Homo sapiens: one gene and its partners. The protein of the gene in region 2 purifies or fractionates together with the protein of the main gene of each other region. This does not show direct contact. Each region holds a gene or a part of one and is shown on either strand. Other genes may lie near its edges.

Region 1 (3,500 bases), on a different chromosome or scaffold from region 2:
TAATGAAAATTTTTAAATGATGACAAATTTAAGCCACTGAACAAGCTAATTTGTGAACACTTTATCACACATTAAAACAATATTGTCCTTCCAAATAACATGGGCAAAAAATGAACAGGGCCTCACACTGATCTAAGCTCCATTGGTAATGGTGCCGAGTCTCATAAAGAGAATGCCCCAATCATTTGCTTCATCTGAGAAAAGCCATCTGGTCAATCTTTCAAAACATAATCGCAAGGCACATAGGATGTGCACCTTTGCTATCACAAATCTTGTTTAAAATAAACAACTAGGAACAGTAAGCAGAAATGGTTTCAGCACCTGCACCCTGTGGTCAAGGAATAGTAACAGCTGAAAACAAAGTTTTGGGGCAGGGTGAGCAACACAGTTAACAGCTCCTCCACAAGAAATTCCAGACACCACATCTCCAAGAGCAAACCAAGGAATCCCTAGAAAAGGAGGCTCTGGGAGACTGTTTCTAAAAGTGGGAAGAATGGAAACACCTGGTAGAGACTCAGAAATACGGGAGAGGTCAAATGCTATGATAATTATTTCTGTCTCTAGACAATGCTTGTTTCAAATAATATATGATTACCACAAAAGAGTCTTAATATCCTATTACAATTTTTCTTAAGAGAGTGGTGGCTTTTCCTACTGCAGACAAAACTGAATTAGCCAAATAGCAATTACCTTTCAAGATCTTCCTTTTCCTCCTCCTGTTCACATTTCTCAGTTCCAAACTTGGCTTTTAGTGACCGAGCTCTGGCAATGAGAGCTTCCACATTAGTAATCTGGTGAATGATTTCCTGGCGGTAGAAAAGGAAGAGGCATACATTGCGAGATGGCAAAAAAGCAAAGCCCTTTGAAAACGCATCTTAAAAATTATTTTTGCCAACTGAGGAGAACACTTGGCAAGATTCTGACACTACATCAAACTTACTTCCAATTTCTTGTCTTCTGGATTGGGGAAGTGCAAAACTTTACTGGAATGGGATATTATCTGCTTTATGATCTTCTTAACTGAAGAAATGTTTTCGAGACTTTCTATTTTAGAAAAGATTGAAGCCAGCATTAAATAAATTAAGCAAAATATACTTTCACTTTGGAAATGACTAATGACTAGTTAAATATGACATTTACCTTCTTCCTTTACCTTGAGTACAGCTGCATGAATCACACAAGGTAACAGGTGCCGAGCAAGGTCTGCAGGTTTCTGGATTGCCAGATAGTGCAGCACCTGAAGGAGGTGCAGCGCACACAAATGATCAGCGCAGGTGTCAAAGGATGAAGCAGCCACTTACAGAAGTGCAAATCCTCAGCCACTCATCTTAATCCTTAACAAGACAGCACTCCAGATAGGCAGCCACGACCCCAAAGGTGAGGATAATGTTACTGAAAGCACCTAAGAACTTCAATCTTTAATAATTATAAATATTCTATTTTTTTCTGCTTTCTTATGTAATACACACAAATAAGGAAAATACAAAGAAAATAAAAACTACCGACTGATTACAATACCAAGAGAAAACAACCATTGACAGTGGAGCATTTTCATTTTAAGACGCAGAATACACGTACTAAGGGCACTAATATTAAATATGTAAAATACTGCCTTTTAACCTGCTTTTCTCACTTAATATTTCTAAACATTGTTAGTGACTTCCCACACATTTTTTGGTTTTAGTTGTTTTGGTTTATTTTTTTTCCAATTCTTATTATAAGAATACAGAGAAGTATGTACAAAACATGGACCCTACCTTTAGGCTCCTTATTCAACAGTAAAGATAAAAGAAGTATAACCCTATAAATATGTACAATTCTTTTACATCAATAAAAATTTTAAGAAGTATAATCTCATAATGTGAGTCTGACTGATAAATGCTCATGGATTTCAAAATTTTAAAAAAAATACAGGTGATGCAGAAATTTTCCTGAAATCCTACTTCCCCAAAACCACATTTTCGTGTTTATCCTCTCAAACTACTTGTATGTCCATTTAAACACAAAAATGTAGATGCATATGTAATTTCTTAACAAAAATTAATAACTTACATACTGTTTTATTATTTGCTTTATTTAATGACTTGTGGTGGACTTTTTTTTGGCTTAGAGAGTTTTGTCTGATTTGAAACTTTTTTTAAATTAAGAAATATACATACTAGAGTATTAGAAATAGTTTAAAGAAAACACCAGCTTAGGAAACAGAATGTTACCAGGCTTTTCCAAGTCCTCCTGTGTACCCTCCATCCCCAGAATTAACTACAAATCATTCTTTTGCTTTTCTTTATGGTTTTTTTCACATATGTAGCCTTAAATAATATATTGTTTACTTTTGTCTAGTTTTAACCTTTATATTAATGGAGTGTTTCTGTTTATAGCCCTCAGTGACTTGCTTTTTTTCATTCAGTATTTTGATATTCGTATACCATTCCAATATGCTATAGTTTACTCATTTTCACTGCTGTATTAAAATGTTCCTACACTAATAGTAGTGGATAGCTCCTCAGTTTTTGGCTATTACAAATGATGCTCCTATTACATTATTGCACATATTTCCTGGTGCAAATGGGACATGTACAGCAATTACTTTAGGATATATACCTAACAATTGAACTAGGAAATGTACAACATAATTATCCTACAAAGTGTTTCAACAGATTTACATTCTTATCTAGAGTAATGAGTTCCCTCTGTTGTACATCCTTGCTAATACCCACCTTTCTGAATTTTGTTTTCCCCTGATTCACAGAAAAACAAATTTGCAGGAATAACGTGAAATATGTGATTCCCCTTTACCTGGATTCACGTATGACCTGTCTCCCTCCTCTGTTCTGGATCCCTTGCATCTTTCTCTGCTTTCATGTGTGTACATACTATAGACATAAACTTGTTTCGAATAATTTCAGAATAAGTCGCACACTCATGTCCCTTATCCCAAAATATCTGTATTTCCTAAAATTAAAAATATTTTATTATATAATCAAAATGCAAATGATTCTGATTATATACAATAAATTTAACACTGATAAAAATAATTGTAATCTAACCTACTATCTTTATTGCAGTTTTGTCAACTGATCCCATATGTGTCTTTTTTTTTTTTTTTTTTTTTTTTTTGAGACAGGGTCTTTCTCTGTTGGCCCAGACTGGAGTGCAGTGGTGCGATCTTGGCTCCCCACAACCTCCGCCTCCCAGGCTCAAGCGATTCTCCTGCCTCAGCCTCCTGAGTAGCTAAGACTACAGGCACATGGCCACTACTGCCCGGCCAATTTTTGTATTTTTAGTAAAGACGGAGTTTCACTATGTTGGCCAGGCTGGTCTCGAACTCCTGACCTCAAATTATCCACCTACCTCAACCTCCCAAAGTGCTGAGATTACAGGCATGAGCCACCGCGCCCGGCCGCAAAATGTGTCTTTTATGACCCTTTCCCTCAACCACTACAAGTCTTGGTAAGGATCATCCATTGCCTTTAGTTATCATAGCTCTTTAATCTCAACTA
Region 2 (3,500 bases):
GCCTTTAAGGTGCAGGATAATCTGTGGTGGCATTTCACTCCATCAGACCAGACAGAGGAGGTGAGGACTAGGGAATTGGGTCTTTCCCTGGGGGCCTCAAATCATAACAGGTAGGAGACCCCATCTTTGCTACACACAAAGGCAACCTTGCATCTGATTAAAGCAGAATATCATGGAAGGAGGGTTTCTTGACCCTGCATCATGACTGTGTTCATAGCAGCACTCCAGGGTTGACCAGTTATGGTTTCTGCGCGGCAGGAATCTGCCATTCTTTGCCTATAAAACTGACAGTGGCCTGGCCTTTCCCACTCTGAATTGGATTGCTTAGGACTTTTTGTTTGTTTGTTCATTGTATTCTCTTTGTTAGGTTGGTTGGTGGCTGATTTTGCCCTTAAATCTATTTTGTCATGCTTGCCTGTATTGAACCTCATAGAATGTTTTGAAGAATTTCGTTTTCCAATTTGCTGAGTTATTTTAATTCTTATTCCACTGAGCCTTTAAATGTACAAGTAGTTTTATCTCTTGATAAAAATTAAAGTGACCCTGGGCCGAGTGCAGTGATTCATGCCTGTAATCCTAGCATTTTGGGAGGCCAAGGCGGGTGGGTCATCCGAGGTCAGGCGCTGGAGACCAGCCTGGCCAACATGGTGAAACCCTGTCTTTACTAAAATTACAAAAAGTATCCAGGCATGGTGGCACATGCCTGTAGTCCCAGCTACTTGGGAGGCTGAGGCCAGAGAATCACTTGAATTCAGGTGGCCTAGGTTGCAATGAGCTGAGATCCTACCATTTCACTCTAGCCTGGGCTACAGAGCAAGACTCTGTCTAAAAAATAAATCAATAAATAAATAAATAAATAAAAATAAGCCTGGGCAACATGGCAAAATCCAGTCTCTACAAAAAGATACAAAAAAAAAGTAGCTGGGCATGGTGGCACATGCCTGTAGTCTCAGCTACTTGGGAGGCTGAGGTGGGAGGATCACCTGACCCTCAGAAATCGAGGATGCAGTGAGCCATGATCATGCTTCTGCATTCCAGCCCAGGCGATAGAGTGAGACTGTGTCAAAAAAAAAAATTTTTTTTTATTAAATTGAGCCAAAGCACCAGACTTAAGTTATTGATTTAATTTCCTGTCTTTGGTAAAATTCTTTGGGAGACTTTACAAAGGAATTACTCAGAAGAAGTTTAGATGGTCACACATGGCTGAAAGGTCTCCCAGGACCACGCTTTTGCAGCTCTTTCATACCTGGTGTTCACTCTTATGGAAGATTCATTTAAAGATGGATTGTAGTTAGGGTGAGTCTAGTTTCTTAGGATTTTTGGTGATGATCTCTGATATTGAAAAAGTGGTATGGTTATCTTAGTCCCTGGATCATCCAGATCTTTCTAATAAGTTGATGTTCTCCAAGTACTATAAGAAAATCACCCAGCCTGGGCAACATGTTAGCCAAGAATGGTGGAAAATGCCTGTAATCCTAGCTAGTTGGGAGACTGAAGCAGGAGGATCTCTTGAGCCCAGGAGTACAAGGCACAGTGAGCTATGATTTTGCCACTGCACTCCAACCTGGACAGCAGAGCTAAAACCCTGTCCCTAAAACAACAAAAGCAATACTGCCTAATGGATGGAGCCTCTGGGAGGTAAACAGTGTGAATTAGGATTAGAGTTGGATTTGCAGGCTAGATCTGTCAAGTCTCCTAAAAACCATCACCTCCTATGGGTGGTAGAAAGCGGTGGTTATGTGAAGTTCTGAACTAGACAGAAGGGTCAATGTCTTTGGATCAAAAGGTTTCTTAGGATTCTGCCCGCCTGGCAGACTTTCGTCCTTCTCGTTATTATTCTAGAGCTTCTGGAAGCTGAGGTCTACTGAGAAGTCGTCCCAGAAGCAGAAAGTGAAATCCAAAACCTGCCTGTTTGAAGTTGGAGTCGACACACCCATCTCAAAGTGAGAAAATTAGTCTGGCAGGATAAATTGAACAAGCATTTATGGCAGACAGATAGATGCTTGGTGCTGTGATGGGGCCTATAGGTGGACCGCAAAGAAAAGGGTGCAATGGGATCCTTTCCTCTTAGAGAGCTCACAGTTTATGTGGCCCATTGGCCTGCTGGTGTTCTCCAACATCAATGTTCTTTCTTCCTTACCCTCATCCTTTTTTTCTTCCTTCCTATTTCTTGTTTCCTATCTCCCTCTTTTTTACCTTTACTTTCTAGCTTCACAGAAGAGATGCAATAGGCACAGAAGAGATGCAAAAGGCACTGACTTTTGCCTGAACCCTGATATCTCTCCACAGGACTAGGCTCTAAGCCCCTCATTTCAATGAGGGGCCATGAAGACGGGGGCATCCGGCTGGAGTGCATATCTAGAGGGTGGTACCCAAAGCCCCTCACAGTGTGGAGGGACCCCTACGGTGGGGTTGCGCCTGCCCTGAAAGAGGTCTCCATGCCTGATGCAGACGGCCTCTTCATGGTCACCACGGCTGTGATCATCAGAGACAAGTCTGTGAGGAACATGTCCTGCTCTATCAACAACACCCTGCTCGGCCAGAAGAAAGAAAGTGTCATTTTTATTCCAGGTTAGTTCTCTGCCCTCTGAGACTCGTCGAGTGCATGGGGGATCCTCAGCACACAGATGGAGCCCAGAACGGGGATGGGGGCAGCAGTGTGGGTGAAATAGTCCTGGGCCCTAAGGACCTGGAGGCTGCAGCTGAGTGAAGCCTTTCCGCTTCTCACAAAAGGAGAATCAAAGTGTCCCAAAACTCAGGAGTAGGAGCCTCTTCTCTGAGGGTAAACCTGTTTTTGTTGTTGTTGTTGTTGTTGTTGTTGTTTTTCCCCCCAATAAGGTCCTTACACTGCTGCAATTTTTTTTTAAGACAAGTTCTTGCTCTGTCACACAGGCTAGCATGCAGTGGCACAATCTTGGCTCACTGCAACCTCCTCCTCCCAGGTTCAAGCAATTCTCATACCTCAGCCTCCCGAAGGCTAGGACTACAGGCACACGCCACCACACCCGGCTAATTTTTGTATTTTTAGTAGAGATGGGGATTTCACCTTGTTGACCAGGCTGTTCTCGAACTCCTGACCTCAAGTGATCCACCTGCCTCAGCCTTCCAAAGTGCTAGGATTACAGGCGTGAGCCACCATACCCGGCCAGCAATTTTTAGACATTGAAAACAACCATAACATATGGAGGGTGGTGTGGATAAGTGACTCTCTACACTTGGTGTTCCTGTATGCTGTAGCCATCCCTTCCTGTGCAGGGGATTTTCCACAGGACAGAGCTGTGGAAATTCCCTATAGACACACACTCACAATTCATTCAACAAATGGTCAAGAAGCATATCGTATGTTCAAAACACTGTTCTACCAAGGGTAAATCATTGAACAAATTATATTAAGAACTCTTCCCTCAAAAAGTGATTAGTTAGCTAACCATATATTCTATCAGATGGTAATGAACATCTATAGGAAACATTAAGCAAGGAAGGAATAAAGAGGCAATGTG
Region 3 (3,500 bases), on a different chromosome or scaffold from region 2:
TTATATATATCTAATTTTTATTTATTTGTTTGCTTATTTATTTGAGACAGGGTCTTGCTCTGTCACCCAGGCTAGAGTGCAGTGGTGTGATCATAGCTCACTGTAACCTCAAATTCCTGGGCTGTTCAAGCAGTCCTCTTGCCTTAAGCCTCCTGTGTAGCTGGGACCAAAGGTGCACACCACCACATGTGGCTAATTTTTATTTTTATTTATTTTTTATTTTTGAGATGGAGTTTCGTTCTTGTTGCCCAGGCTTGAGTGCAATGGTGCCATCTCAACTCACCGCAACCTCTGCCTCCCGGGTTCAAGCAATTCTCCTGCCTCAGCCTCCTGAGTAGCTGGGATTACAGGCATGCGCCACCACGCCCGGCTAATTTTGTATTTTTAGTAGAGACGGGGTTCTCCCTGTTGGTCAGGCTGGTCTTGAACTCTGGACCTCAGGTGATCCACCCGCCTCAGCCTCCCAAAGTGCTGGGATTACAGGGATGAGTCACCGCGCCCGGCCTCATGGCTAATTTTTAAATTTGTTGTAGAGATAATGTCTCACTATGTTGCTCCGGTTGGTCTTTAATTCCTGAGCTGAAGCGATCCTTTTGCCTTGGCCTCCCAAAGTGCTGGGATTACAGGCCGGAGCCACCGTGCCTGGCCAAGGATCTTTCTCAAATGAGAAATGCCTGCAGGCAGCTTTCCTTCCCCCTCAATATACTTAAAGAGCCTCCCCAATCCAAGTGACACATAGAGAGATGGGCAGATAAGATGTTAACAGATACATTAGACAAAGCATGCAGCCTGTTCTGGCCTTGGCTTAACCCAAGATTTCATTGCCCTCCTTTCCTCATTCCTTCTGGCCCATTTCCAATTATTTTCTTATTCCAATGATTCTTCAAGTATGATTCCTGGAGCAGTAGCATCAGTATCTCCAGAAATGGAAATTTTTAGAGCCCATCCCAGTTCCACTGAATCAGAAACTCTAGGGGTGGGCCCAGCTACCTGTGTTTTAACAAGTCCTTCAGGTGATTAGAATGCATGCTCAAGTTTGGGAATCACTGTCCTAACCATTAAATTGTACATTAGCCTTAGGGTAAGAGCTGCCAGTTATTAAGACATCCATAGAGATGAGATAAACTACAAATGAGGCCCCCGTCTCAAAGACCCTCCAAAAGTCAGGGCAGAGAAAGGGAGCTTCTTCTCCCAGGCCAGCTGGTCTGGCCTAAGCCCTAAGCTGCTGCCCTAAGCCCTCTATATCGCAGGAGACAACAGGTGGGCTAGGGCTATGGATACTTAGCCAGGCAGGTGCCTTGAGCCTACTAGGACAAAAAAGCAATAGACAAGGCAGAACCCCAGTCTTCCACACATACTCTGACTTGAGGAAGCGAGCAGTTTTGATGATCTGTTTGGTAGCTTCAACATAGCCGTTCTCACCGAAGTGCATCAAGGCAGCCCAACAGGCTGCGCTAATGCCACCAGGCCGTGAGCCTGCGATGGTTGGGGAAGCATAGATGCCACCCTGCCAATCTGTATCGACGAAGAACTGATAGTTCCTGTACTTCTTGTCACTATACAACACCAATGATGAGCCTTTTGGGGCATAGCCATACTGTGGAAGAAGTAGCAGACAAGAAAAGTGAGAGTATAGTTCTGTCTGGCAGACCTTGTCCCAGAACTCTCATCATGCAAAGGAAATCCTATTTATTTCTCAGTTTCTCTGTTATGTTTCCCACTCACATTAAGGATTCAAACTTAAAATGCTAAAGGATAGTAGGAACTTAAGGGATGGAGTTTAAATTCTCTCTGTTAGGAATGAGGAATCTGAGACCCAGGGAAGAACAGCGCCCAGTTAATCGGTTTACTCCCTCTCTTGCCCAGCATGTGGTTTACCTTATTTAAAATATTTCTCTGGAGACCATATGTCAGGATGAAAGCAAGGGTAAGTTTGCAATGGAAGCCAGGAAAGGATGGAATTTGTCACTTCAAGTTAAAATCACCATCTGACCCCCTTCCCATCTTTTTTTGCTTAGTATTACTAAGAATATTATGCTTATGAGAACATAATGGTGCTCAGAAACTAAAAGCTACTTAATCCAGCTTTAAAATTAACTATGTAACTGGTTTCCTTATAGAACATCTGACCCCCTAATTAACTCTTATTAAAACTAACGTGGAACTAATTTCATTACCTGAACCATCCAGAAATGGATGGTTATGGGAAAAGGACACAGGAGCTATCTGGATGGTAAGGAAAAAACAGATGCTGACTGAAAATCGGCTGCAGATCACACCGATTTTGAAAAACAAGTCTTTAATATACTTGAGTTTAAAACAAGCTCTGAAAATGCAATCAAAACAAGGTACACATTCCTGAGGCTGCTAATACTTCTTCCACATCTGGATGTATATTCAATAGCGTTATCAACTGATCTAGACTTTGTCTCAGTCCACCAAGGGTGGCAGGCGTGGCCATCTCAAATGCTGAATGTTCCTGAGCACACAGGTTCTTCCCATTTTCCAAAGGACTCTTCCGTCAACATTTTCCCGTCATGTACGCTCAGGAGCCCAGTTGCACAGCAGCTCTAATGTTATCTACCAGCATGGGAACTCCACTACCAACCCTCACACTCCTCTACCCTCCACCTCAAATCAGCTCAAGGCTTCAGGGAGCTTTTTTAACAAGGGCCACTACACTAGCATGTTCTAGTTACACACAGTCAGTGGATACAGAAATTCTCTTAGCCAATTTGAGATAAAGGTAACAGGTTCATTTTCACTACTGCTTGTCACCTCTACCACTATACCCCATCACCTGAACCAGCTGATCTGGTGACGGCAAAGAGAGAGTTTAAAACAAGCATCTGATGAGAATTCTATAGTTAATTTTATACTTTGCGGGGAAGCTACCAATTTATTTTATCAATAATAGTCAAAATAATCAACTGGTAACACTTGATCTCCTCCTTAGCTCACCTTATGGGTGTCAGCTGAAATGCTGGTTACACCTTTCACCCGGAAATCAAATGGGTGCTCCAGTGGGTATCCTGCTTTCTCCATAAAGACGATGAGGAAGCCTCCCAGACAAGCGTCGACATGAAGGGGTATTTTGTATTTGACAGCCAGCTTGTTCCAAAAAACAAAGAACATAAGAGAATTTCCTTTATAGCCCTATAATAAAAACTGCAAGACATGGGTGGAAAGATGGGCTATAAACACAAGGCTATTTTGTATTATGCCTCCCATGTTTTTAAAAAATGGCTATTTTTAACATTCCCAACAAAATTTATCTTTCAAATGTATTTTCCCTTCAAAATAATTCATCTGAAATATGGTATCAATTTTATATTTAAATATGCATGACCTCAAACGCTCTGCGGTATCAAGCAGGAAATGAGTAGAGCTCTGATTTAGGCTGCCTCTCGCACAAGGGAAAGGTCCTGCCTCAGTCACTGCAGGATGAGGCGTGAGGGAAAGGGAGGCGCTGAGGGGCAGCATGTGGAATATCACCCTTT
Region 4 (2,805 bases), on a different chromosome or scaffold from region 2:
AATCTCGGAAGATGAGAACAATGAGTAGGTTAATAAAGGAATTAATGAGGGTTCTGAACTAAGACTTTAATAGAAAAGACAGAGACAAATGTATGCATTTGTGATAAGTAATATGTCAAAAGATGAACTTGGGTTTCTGAATGAATAGTGGCTTTGTTCACTGAGATAGATAATACACAAGAATGAGCAGGTATGGAGGGAAAAGATGACAAGCTGAGTTTGAATTTACACATAATGAATTTTAAGGCATGGTGAGATATCTGATTGAAAATGACCAGAAGATCTTTGGGAGATCAGGAAAGAGATCCTAGTTCAAGCCACAAAGGAATAAATATTTTACCAGGATTTCTTACTTAGGTATCATTGATGGGCTTTAAGTTCTTAAGTCCCTGAAACTGTACACACATTTTTGTGTGTGTGTGCAGGTGAATATGCAGCATGCCTAACTTATTTTCCCTCCTTCTCTTATTCCCCACCCCATGTTAAATATGACAGCTGTCTTTTGCAAGTATCTTTATTCTTTTATTATTCATTTTATTTTCATATAAATTAACATCCTAGAAAAATTGAAATAGAAACACTAAATACAGTATTGCACATAGCGATCTTTGTTAAATGCCCTATTATTTCATTGGAGAATGGTAATATACACACTGGAGGGACTGAAGGGGACAGGAAGACTACAAAACAATAGAAAAAAAACCACTACTGTTTCTTTGCACTTAAACTACAAACTAAAAAGTAAGAGACCATACTTTACATAAATACAAACAATTATGATTTAGAACATTGGTTTTCTTAAGTTGCTTTCCATAATTGGTTTGCAAGAGCAATAAATTCTCCCCTTTATCCACAACTATAACTTGCAACGAAGATCATTAAAAGTAATGGAAAAAAACACCCAGCTCATACAAAACCATCACAATGCATTACGAGCTGACCCAAGTCATTATATGACTTCAGTAAAAAAAATGACCATTTTCTTTCACAAATACATAGTTATGGAGAGCAACCCAAGAGTTGGGAAAGCACTGATTATAAACGGTTCTTAAATTTTAAAATAGAAAATTTATACTTAGACATGAAACTGATACAAACAATTCACTAGAAATAACATTTTACCCATATGTCTAAATGCTGTGATGTGGAGGACTGGTTGTCAGTAGAAAGGAAAGTGTTTTTGCTGTGACGAGGAATATTCTCACAACAGTGAATTGTAGTTAATGTTTAGCATGTTGAGAATTAGTGCAGATACTGCCTCTTACACATGCTGTTTTGGTCTATCGGTATAATACCATAAACTTTTACAAAAAGAAAAGGTGTCAAATTCTCCACTGGTCTAGTACGTTTGCATTTTTATATGAATATACAGTAAAATTCAACAATTAGTGAACTGTCTAGAAAACAAAAAGATTATGCAAGAGGTCAAGAAGAAACATGAGCAGAATGACGGTAGTTTCCCTCCCACTCTCAGGTCAGCTGAATTTTGTGAAAGTCGTTGCAATGACTCATTTTCATTCTGCTTTTCATTGTTCAAGTTTTCATGCTTATCTTTGCTTTCTGAAAACAAATACACCAGATAAAAGTTTTAGTTAGAAAGAACTTTTAAAAATGGAAAGAATTTAGAGTAGCCTAAAAAAGACCTTTTCATTTGGATCAAATTCTGTGGGACAAGGTTAAAGGTCTACCAGTCCATAAAGGAAAAAAGTATAAGTGGGATCTGTGTTATCTTTGAGCACTTTTATCAAGACAAATCGCCAAATACTTTTGAGAAAAAAAAAAGTTTTAAAAATTTAACTTCTAACCAATATGAGAGGGTGTCAAACTCTCCATTCTCATCCTCAATCCTACATGCAAATACATAAATATGAAAACTGAAGTGGCTGCTTCACTTCATGGTAAATGTACTCTAATTATCTTCTGTACTCATAATAGCAAGATTGAGGTTCACTAATAAGTAACTATTCCTCCACATTCAATACAGTTATAAGACTGAATCATCAGGAGCAGAAGATAAGCTGAACTATCATGTAGTAGTTATCATTAGATAAGATCATTTTGATACAGAGAAACTGAAGGCACCACTGCTTCTAAATGAAGATATAATTCCTAACTTTTTAAAAAAAAACAGGGCTATTTAATCATATCCCAATTTGGGTTATTTTAATGTCTTTTCCCTTTAGACTACATTAGACTAATTCAATTTAGAATGGTCCTATCCTAAGGCCTAACTCAACTTTTCATTTAAAACATTTACTTACACTGTGGTACCAAGTGATAATCCCTCAAAACAGTCAACAAAACATCCTCAGTATCACAAGGAAAAGCCTTGTCATTTTAACCAAGCCCTTCCCTCCCAGGGTGGATAACCTGGCATTTTGTTTTAAAGCGGGGAGTGGGCAAGCAGGAAACTTAAATGAGCTTGTTAAACTCCGTCTCTGGACTGACCACTCTCCGGCAGCCAACTCTGCCGAGCCATCTGTGGATATAAACGGGGTCTGGGCACCCTGGGCAAAGCGTCACACTGCTCTTGGCGCTTCCCACCAACTTTACATCCCAGTGGATCTAATCCAATTAGAATGATCACTCGTGGCTCAAATACAGCCTCTGCCGTGATCTGTGTGTAACAAAGAAAGTGAAAGATGGTCTCCCCACCCTGCCCCTGCCAACATGCACATATCCACATAAATGCACACCCTCAGTAGATTCAGTAGATTTATCTTAATTTTTTTTTTTTTTTTTTTGAGACAAAGTCTCACTCTGTTGCCAGGCTGGAGTGCAGTGTTGCAATCTTGGCTCACTGCA
Region 5 (3,500 bases), on a different chromosome or scaffold from region 2:
ATGCGCACAATGTGCAGGTTAGTTACATATGTATACATGTGCCATGCTGGTGTGCTGCACCCATTAACTCGTCATTTAGCATTAGGTGTATCTCCTAATGCTATCCCTCCCCGCTCCCCCCACCCCACAACAGTCCCCAGAGTGTGATGTTCCCCTTCCCGTGTGCATTCATAGATGGGAATTGAACAATGAGAACACACGGACCCCTTACGAAAACTTTTAATGTGTATTTGATCTTTAGAGAAAAAAAATGTAGGAAGAAAGTAGAATCTTTCCTAGTTACTAAATTTTTAATGACTAAGCCACTTCTTTATGCAATGTAGATAAATTCAACACTATTGTTAGGAACAATTTTGTGATGGGGTATACCTACCTTAACAGACAAAGTGTTTGCCACTATCCCATCTACGATGCCTTCAGTAAATGGATCAAAATGCTTGTCAGGCCTCCTCATGAACTCTGGCTTCAATCTGTAGCCACTCTTCCCGTTGTATTCATACATCCCCATATTTATTTGCATAGCCAGGTCTGAGTATCAAAAACACAAGCCTTATTGTGAGTTTATCTATACTTGGGGTAAGAAAGTAAGATTGTAAAGTAAAGTTGATCCCAGTCCACTTTTGTGACTGTATTCCCTTGGAAGAGAGTCATTGTAGAAATGCAGGAAACACAGATAAGAAAAAAATTACCTCTAATCCCCAAGTCCAGAAATAATCACTGCCAACTGGTGGGTGTGCAGTCTGCTTTTCCACTTCAAATATATTGTTGACATACAGTATATTGATTTCATTTAATATGTATCTGCCTTAATTATAACAGCTGTCTCAAATTCCTTTGATTAAATATATTAGAATAATATATTTGTATAATATATGTTAAATATTAATATAATATAATATATCTAATATATAATATATAATTATATATAAATATAGTATATACAAAATATCTAATATCTAACATATATTAGATATATTATTTATATTATTCTAATATATCTAATATCTAATGTATTAAATATATCATTCTAATATATATTAGATATATTAGAATGATATATTAAATATATCATTCTAATATATAAAGCATATATTAGAATATTATGATACAATATCTAATATCTAATTTCTAATTTCTAATTCTAATATCTAATTTCTAATATGATACACTATCTAATACAATATATTAGAATATAATATCTAATACAATATATTAGAATATAATATCTAATACAATATATTAGAATATAATGTATTTAACCATTCCCCTTTTGGGCACATTTATGTTTTTTCTAATTTTTCACCCTTATAATGTTTTGATAAACATCATTGTGGTGAAATCTTTGAAGCCATGATCAGTGATTTTCTTATGAGAGGAATTCCTGGGACAAATGATGTCCTCATTGGAAAATTTTTCTTTGATGCCTTGCTAAAATGCCCTTCAGAAAGCTTAAACCAGCTTATACTACTAAGCCATGTTTTTGAGAATGGACTTCTCCATGCCTCATTAAAAGAGGATTCTATTATTCCTTTTCCTGCTTTTTAATTTGTACAAAAAATTTCTTTTTTATAATTTGCACTTCTGTGATTACTTACAATTAACATCTAATTCTACATAGACTCTTTTCCAGTGGACAAAGGTTACTGGTCAAAATTTTCCTCAGACTCAGTGCATCAGATGAACGTTCACACATATTGCAACTGATAGAGTGAAAGAATACATATTAAAGTTGTAAAGAATCTGGGAAGTTGTCAACAGTTCCAGATTATCTGTGTCATGACTCATCTCTATGTGCATAATAAAGAGGTGATGGCAGAATTATTCTAAAGTTTCATTTAACAAATCATTTTTAGAGCAGAAAAAAATCAGTGAAATTTTCTCTTATTAAACTATTATTTTATAAACATAACTATGATGTCAAAATTGGACAAAATTTCAAAACAATAATGAATTTATGACACTTGAAAAAATTAGCTTCAAAAGCCTAAAAATTACATTAGCAAGTCATATGTTCTAAAAATAATACACAACAAATAAGTAGAGCCTATTTTGGGAACAAAAGGATAATTATATATTAGGAAATGAGATCTATTAAGATAACTTATCACATTTATGTCTGAAAAATGAACATATGATCATCCCAATGGATGTCCAAGAGACATTTAATAACATTCAATACCAACTTCTAAAACATTAGTCAAATAGGACCCGTGTCCTTTAGTATGTTAAAGAATATCTGACTCAAAGTCACAGCCAATATCTGACTTGATGATATCACAACAGTGAAACTTATATTAGGATCAGGATGAAGAGAAAGATGCCCACTCTTCACTTAGATAGAAGACGTTAAGACCTGGTGTTTGATAGACAAGGAGGTGACTATAGTTAACATTAATAGTTTGTACATTTAAAAATAGCTAGAAGACAGCAATTCGATTGTTTCTAATGTAAAGATAAATATTTCAGGTGATGGATATCCCAATTACTCTGATTTGATTATATAAATGTATTAAATTATCATACGTACTGCAAACGTTTGTACAGCTATTATGTATCAATAAAAATAAATTAATTGATTTTAAAAAGCCATAAATATCTAGCAAATTACTCTTAATCGTGGCTTAGAGCTTGATAGATACTTAATAAAAGGCATAATGTTGAACTTCCTACTGAATAAAAAAGAAAGATGCCCACTCGGAACCCTCATTTAATACCTGAGAACGGTAAGGCCAAAGCAATAAATAAGGCAGGTGGAGAAATGAGATATGATTAAATTACTGTCTTTGTGTGTCTAAAAATTCCAACGGAATGTACTGCAAAAAATAGGCTATTATAAGAGTTTAGAAAGATGATCATTTGTAAAATACAATCATTTATAAAATAAACAAATATACAAATATAAATATCCAGAAACAATCTGTTAAAAATATAATATAAATAAAAAGAAAGATTCAGTCTAAGAAAACTAGACCTCTAATGAAGACAAGTGATTTTGCTGAGGACTTAATACAAAAAATTTTAAAGTAAAGAGAAAAGCATTTTTCCTGTGACAGAAAAACTAAAAATTAAAAAGGTGTCAGTTTTTGTCAGATAAATTTATAAAGTTAATATGATTTTAAAAATAGTTTTTTTTTAGTAGTCAAGGAAAACATAATACAGTTAAATTAAGTTTATTTGAAATAAGAATTCCACTGGCAATGGCAAAAAAGGAATTGAAAATTAATAGTAGTAAAGGAGAATCACCACTTCCAGGTATTAATCCATATTATAAAATACAGTAAAAACAGTGAGTTATTGCATCCAGGAAGGCAGACAAATTTATTAATGGAAAAGATACAAAGTGAAAAAATGGGTCTGAATTAACAACAACAATGAAAAAGGCTGTATCTATTAACGTGTAATTCCAGTTCAGTGGGATGATTGTTTAGGATGAAAAAAAAGGATTGATCTCACTGAGACTATGGACCAAAATTAAATTTTGATGGTTGAAAAGGTTAAAT
Region 6 (2,939 bases), on a different chromosome or scaffold from region 2:
GAGCTTGAAAACAGACACTATGTCTTAGTCATTTTATAGTCCTAGACATAATAGATACATAATAAATGTTGAACAAATTAATGAATGGATAAAGATGAAGAACTATTAATTCCACAAATATTTGAGTGCCTACAATGAGCCGGGCTCTGTTTCAGTACAAAAAAAGTAGCCAGAACTTTGTACCTGTAAGATGATTAGAACCCTGGGAACAGGCTTCTATTTTAAGCCTTTTTTTAGCTTTTTACCTGTAGGAACTTCCAAATGAGCCACTTGCTTGTTTATTCATGTTTAAGAAAGAACCACCTGCCCAACGTTTAGCAGTGGCATTATGACAATGAATGGCAGTGGGAAAGCACAATGCACTCATTCTCGTCTCATAAAAGTGCACTTTAAGAGTCCAGTCTCAATTTCATAGTTATCTTCCTTTATTATTCTCTGGAGAATGTAACTTCAAGAGTTGGCAAAGGAGAAAATAGTAAATGAAGACAAAGCCAAAGTGATTCTGCCAATAAATACTTTAATGAGAACCGAGGTCTGTAACACATATAGCAATAACCACCCTGGCCTATGCCTTCTGCTCTAGCCCAAGTCTGGGGCTAACCAATTACATTTAACCACATTTGGAAAGCAGGCCGTTTTCAATGTCACCCATCAGTATCCATCTTCATAGAAGATACCAATCTGGGGCCAGAGTCTCAATGTTAACACTTTCTCTCGGGGAAAAGTTAACATGGTAACACAAACATAGAAATAACTTTGAACCACCCCACTGTTCTTCCATCAGGAGGCCCTTAGGAGACCAACGGCTTGGTAAACACTTACAACATTGTCAAAATACATTAGAACACGGGAAAAGGGCAAAGGAGTAGAAAGGCTGGCAGGGCTGGGCTCACATATAATTCAGTTCTTAGATTTGAAGCCTCTTTAGCTGCTCGTATGTAATAAAAAACTGAGGAGTAAGTCAAGGAAGATCACCAGGTTGATATCGAAAGCCAAAGCTAGTTCTAAAATTAGCATCGCATTCTCTTAAATTAAGGTAGTCTATGCTATTCCAAGCTGCATCTGCTTTAAAATCTTTTCTAAAACACCACCTGACAGCCGGGCGCGGTGGCTCACGCCTGTAATCCCAGCACTTTGAGAGGCCGAGGTGGGTGGATCACGAGGTCAGGAGATCGAGACCATCCTGGCTGACATGGTGAAACCCTGTCTCTACTAAAAATACAAAAAATTAGCCGGGTGTGGTGGCGGGTGCCTGTAGTCCCAGCTACTCGGGAGGCTGAGGCAGGAGAATGGCGTGAACTCAGGAGGTGGAGTTTGCAGTGAGCCGAGATCGCGCCACTGCACTCCAGCCTGGGCGAGAGAGCAAGACTCCATCTCAAAAAAAAAAATAAAAATAAATAAATAAATAAATAAAACACCACCTGTCAAATCAAGCATGCATTGAGTGCCTACCATGTGCCCATTCAGATCACTGGCATCGAACAACATAAACAGAGTAAAACTCTAATATATTTATAGTCTTCAGGGGGAAACAGGACAAACGCACACACGCACACACACACAGTAACCAAGAACATCAGTGACGACATATAATTAATTAGATGATCAGAGTGATTCCAAGAGGGAACGAGATACCCTCTCTCTGTCTACAGACCCCACAAGGGCAGAGAATTACTTTCCAACCCTGCGGTGCTTACCATTATACACACAACACCACACACAGTATCCAATACATGGCTCTGCACTTAGGAGGCACTCAAACACAACTGGAGGAGACAGATTCACCCATGAAGAAAGAAGCCTGCTTGGCTGTGGATTCCTTCACCCCATGAATGTCTTCTGTCCTGTTTTTATTTCCCAGCTATTTTGGTCCTATAGTTAGGGGTAGGAAATCTGAACCACCTCAGCATGGACTTTCCTGTAGGCTTCGTCCATCAGGGTTTCTAAAAACTTCATAGCCCCTTCCAGATTAGCTGTGTTTGTTGTCATTTTGTTTTAAAGAGTAAAGTTTGACATATCTTTTCTATCCCTTTTAGTTTGTATTAGCCTCCAACTGAAAGCTGTTTCTTTGCTTAATTTGATTCTCAAGGGTCACCAATGGGATGCTTGAGTTTCTCACTAGCCTAAAAGGCTTTAATAATCAAATTTTCCTTCCCATAGCCTAGAATTATCTGGGAGCTTGAAGCACTTGCTTTCATTCTCTCAAAGGATACAATGATGTTCCAGGGTCCAAGCCGAAGCCAGTTTGGCCAAAATCCTTTATAGAGTGCAAAAAAGCCCTCATGTTTCCACATCTGCAGGAAAGATATAACCAAAAACAGAGTGAATTCACCTTTCTCTACATTTGACATCACCTTCCACTCCCACCCCAGGGCAACTTATGGCTCCATGAATAGTCTTTTCTCTAAAGGTCCATTTTAAATTCATCTGTAGTCTAAATCCATCCACCCACTTAATCAATAAATATTTACCTACCATACATATGCAAAGCACCATTCTTGATGTTGAGAATATACTAATAAACAAGACAGAAAAAGTGTCTATGGTAGCCAGCCTCCAAGATGGCCCCCAATGAACCCTACCTCCAGTTATTTGTACCCTTGCGTAGCCTCCACCCCATAGTATTTGGTCTGTGTCACCAACAGAATATGGTAGTAGTGAACATATGTCACTTCCATAGCTAGGTTATAAAATATATTTTATATATAATAAAGCATCTGCCTTATTCTCTCTTGGATTCATTCACTCTAGAGGAAACCATCTGCTATATCATGAAGAGAGGACTACATGGTGAGGAACTGAGGGCTCCAGCCAACAACTGCATGAGTGATCACTGAAGCAGCTATCCCAGCCTGTCAAGGCTTTAGATGGCAGCAACCCTAGTTGCCATATGAACTACAACCTCAGGAGACAGCCTAAGCCAGAATCAACTCAGCTAA
Region 7 (2,334 bases), on a different chromosome or scaffold from region 2:
GTGTTGCTACAATGACGTCTGTAAACAGAAGTTGGACTGGGTGACCTCCAGGATCCCCATACCCCAATTCCAAGATTCTAAGTATAACAAACCTAACCTGCCTGTCCCTTGCTTCATAGAGTATAAGTTCCCAGAGTGGACTTATGGCCCCTGACAGGTATAATGAAAATACTGCAGAGACCACTTCTGTCTCCAATTGCCTGGAATTTTTAGAGTGTAGAACTACAGGTCTTTTAGGTCAGGCGTCTGGCGATTGCTCCAAATGACTGGTTAATAGCAAGTAATACTACATAGTTTTCAAACTAATAATCCTTAAAAACAGTAGGTTAAAACCATCTTATCTTTATGAAACAAGAAGTTAATATACTTGCACTTTGCTCTCTTTTAGGCTATTCTCATGGATCACAACTGCCCTATTAAAACAAAAATGTACACTCAGAATAATATCCAGTCATATCCGATAGGTGAAGATGAAGAATCTGAAAGTGACTGAGATGAGATCCTCAAAAATCATCAAAGTGTTTAATTGTATAAAACAGTGTTTCCAGTGACACAACTCATCCAGAACTGTCTTAGTCATACCATCCATCCCTGGTGAAAGAGTAAAACCAAAGGTTATTATTTCCTTTCCATGGTTATGGTCGATTGCCAACAGCCTTATAAAGAAAAAGAAGCTTTTCTAGGGGTTTGTATAAATAGTGTTGAAACTTTATTTTATGTATTTAATTTTATTAAATATCATACAATATATTTTGATGAAATAGGTATTGTGTAAATCTATAAATATTTGAATCCAAACCAAATATAATTTTTTAACTTACATTAACAAACATTTGGGCAAAAATCATATTGGTAATGAGTGTTTAAAATTAAAGCACACATTATCTCTGAGACTCTTCCAACAAAGAGAAACTAGAATGAAGTCTGAAAAACAGAATCAAGTAAGACAGCATGTTATATAGTGACACTGAATGTTATTTAACTTGTAGTTACTATCAATATATTTATGCGTTAAACAGCTAGTTCTCTCAAGTGTAGAGGACAAGAACTTGTGTCAGTTATCTTTTGAATCCATAAATCTTAGCTGGCATTAGTTTTCTATGTAATCACCTACCTAGAGAGAGTTGTAAATTATATGTTAACATGTTATCTGGTTGGCAGCAAACACTAAAGCCAATAAAGGAAAAACAGTAAATGTTCCGAAAGCAGAGAAAAGCAACCAAACATATTGTTATGAACTAAAAGCTTTCCCTTTAAGATGCATACTTGTCTTACTGGATGAAGAAAATTGAGGGTACATGTACCTTATACTGTCAAGGTTGTTTAAACATGATAAGGTTAATCGCCATCTACTTCAAGTTTTAGAAAAGGAAACAAGAAGCTGAAAACAGCTGCTCTGACTTTAATATCTGACTATATCTTTGATCTGTTTGCAGGTCATCCAAGTGTTTTCTAGGAATATATTTATTTTAGGTTGTCTGAAACTACTATTTTTTAGACTCCTGAAAGTTGTTCACATCAATGTGAAGACAAATTTTAAATGAAAATGAAGAATGAAATTATGTCTTGAATCATATATTAAGAAGTAAAAATAATAGTGATCAGGCAGAAAAGAAAAATGGAACATCTAAAAATGTATGTGCTAACTATATCATCCAGTGTGCAGTGTTGTGTATTTTTCTAAGCATGACAACATTGATGTGCCTTTTCAGTGTAACAGCAAATACTGTTAGTGAACATTGTCAATTTATGTCATTTTGTTAAGAGATATGACTGGAGTGTGCAGTGTGGAATGTCTCTAATACTACTTGTGAATCCTGCAGTTCTATAATCATAAACAAAAATTACTTAGTTTCGTTAAGCTAAGATTGTGTTTGTGTTAACTTCGACATCAAGGAGCAAAGAACTTTAGAACAGACTCCTCAATCTTGTGACTTTCTTATTCTCTAGGAAAGTAACACTTCGTTTCATGAAGCTTTTCTGTGGGGCTTCGATTATTTCAAGTCTGGTTTCTAAGTGCAGTGTGTTTGAAGCAAACGAACTTCCAACTCACTTATTTGGCATTGGGCAACTTGGCCAAGTCTGCCACTTTGGAAGATGGCTCTGGAGGAAACTCTCATATGGCTAAAAAGGCAGGCTAGTTTCTTACTTCTACAGGGGTAGAGCCTTAAAAAAGAACGTGCTACAAATTGGTTCTCTTTGAGGGTTTCTGGTTCTCCCTGCCCCCAATACCATATACTTTATTGCAATTTTATTTTTGCCTTTACGGCTCTGTGTCTTTCTGCAAGAAGGCCTGGCAAAGGTATGCCTGCTGTTGGTCCCTCGGGATAAGAT

What was found.
Region 1: the proteins of BTN2A1 (region 2) and RAB3GAP1 purify together in Homo sapiens (affinity purification with mass spectrometry; 3 studies listed by BioGRID and IntAct, with this or other methods). This does not show direct contact.
Region 3: the proteins of BTN2A1 (region 2) and SGPL1 purify together in Homo sapiens (affinity purification with mass spectrometry; 3 studies listed by BioGRID and IntAct, with this or other methods). This does not show direct contact.
Region 4: the proteins of BTN2A1 (region 2) and FMN2 purify together in Homo sapiens (affinity purification with mass spectrometry; 3 studies listed by BioGRID and IntAct, with this or other methods). This does not show direct contact.
Region 5: the proteins of BTN2A1 (region 2) and PLCB1 purify together in Homo sapiens (affinity purification with mass spectrometry; 3 studies listed by BioGRID and IntAct, with this or other methods). This does not show direct contact.
Region 6: the proteins of BTN2A1 (region 2) and SLC25A14 purify together in Homo sapiens (affinity purification with mass spectrometry; 2 studies listed by BioGRID and IntAct, with this or other methods). This does not show direct contact.
Region 7: the proteins of BTN2A1 (region 2) and PDZD8 purify together in Homo sapiens (affinity purification with mass spectrometry; 3 studies listed by BioGRID and IntAct, with this or other methods). This does not show direct contact.

What each region holds. Positions count from the first base shown.
Region 1 is NC_000002.12:135,160,292-135,163,791, reverse strand, and holds part of RAB3GAP1 (rab3 GTPase-activating protein catalytic subunit), read right to left. Parts: intron 1,238-3,500; coding exon 1,141-1,237; intron 1,045-1,140; coding exon 941-1,044; intron 807-940; coding exon 691-806; intron 1-690. UniProt on the Homo sapiens protein: Catalytic subunit of the Rab3 GTPase-activating (Rab3GAP) complex composed of RAB3GAP1 and RAB3GAP2, which has GTPase-activating protein (GAP) activity towards various Rab3 subfamily members (RAB3A, RAB3B, RAB3C and RAB3D), RAB5A and RAB43, and guanine nucleotide exchange factor (GEF) activity towards RAB18.
Region 2 is NC_000006.12:26,460,955-26,464,454, forward strand, and holds part of BTN2A1 (butyrophilin subfamily 2 member A1 isoform 1 precursor), read left to right. Parts: intron 1-2,289; coding exon 2,290-2,571; intron 2,572-3,500.
Region 3 is NC_000010.11:70,871,448-70,874,947, reverse strand, and holds part of SGPL1 (sphingosine-1-phosphate lyase 1), read right to left. Parts: intron 3,112-3,500; coding exon 2,962-3,111; intron 1,598-2,961; coding exon 1,359-1,597; intron 1-1,358. UniProt on the Homo sapiens protein: Cleaves phosphorylated sphingoid bases (PSBs), such as sphingosine-1-phosphate, into fatty aldehydes and phosphoethanolamine. Elevates stress-induced ceramide production and apoptosis.
Region 4 is NC_000001.11:240,472,883-240,475,687, reverse strand, and holds the end of FMN2 (formin-2), read right to left. Parts: intron 1,561-2,805; coding exon 1,534-1,560; 3' UTR 501-1,533; downstream 1-500. UniProt on the Homo sapiens protein: Actin-binding protein that is involved in actin cytoskeleton assembly and reorganization. Acts as an actin nucleation factor and promotes assembly of actin filaments together with SPIRE1 and SPIRE2.
Region 5 is NC_000020.11:8,730,266-8,733,765, reverse strand, and holds part of PLCB1 (1-phosphatidylinositol 4,5-bisphosphate phosphodiesterase beta-1), read right to left. Parts: intron 529-3,500; coding exon 374-528; intron 1-373.
Region 6 is NC_000023.11:130,370,919-130,373,857, reverse strand, and holds the end of SLC25A14 (brain mitochondrial carrier protein 1 isoform 1 precursor), read right to left. Parts: intron 2,295-2,939; coding exon 2,214-2,294; intron 950-2,213; coding exon 908-949; 3' UTR 501-907; downstream 1-500. UniProt on the Homo sapiens protein: Transports inorganic anions (sulfate, sulfite, thiosulfate and phosphate) and, to a lesser extent, a variety of dicarboxylates (e.g. malonate, malate and citramalate) and, even more so, aspartate and glutamate and tricarboxylates.
Region 7 is NC_000010.11:117,276,774-117,279,107, forward strand, and holds the end of PDZD8 (PDZ domain-containing protein 8), read right to left. Parts: 3' UTR 501-2,334; downstream 1-500. Other genes in the region: SLC18A2 (synaptic vesicular amine transporter), read left to right, coding at 389-493. UniProt on the Homo sapiens protein: Molecular tethering protein that connects endoplasmic reticulum and mitochondria membranes. PDZD8-dependent endoplasmic reticulum-mitochondria membrane tethering is essential for endoplasmic reticulum-mitochondria Ca(2+) transfer.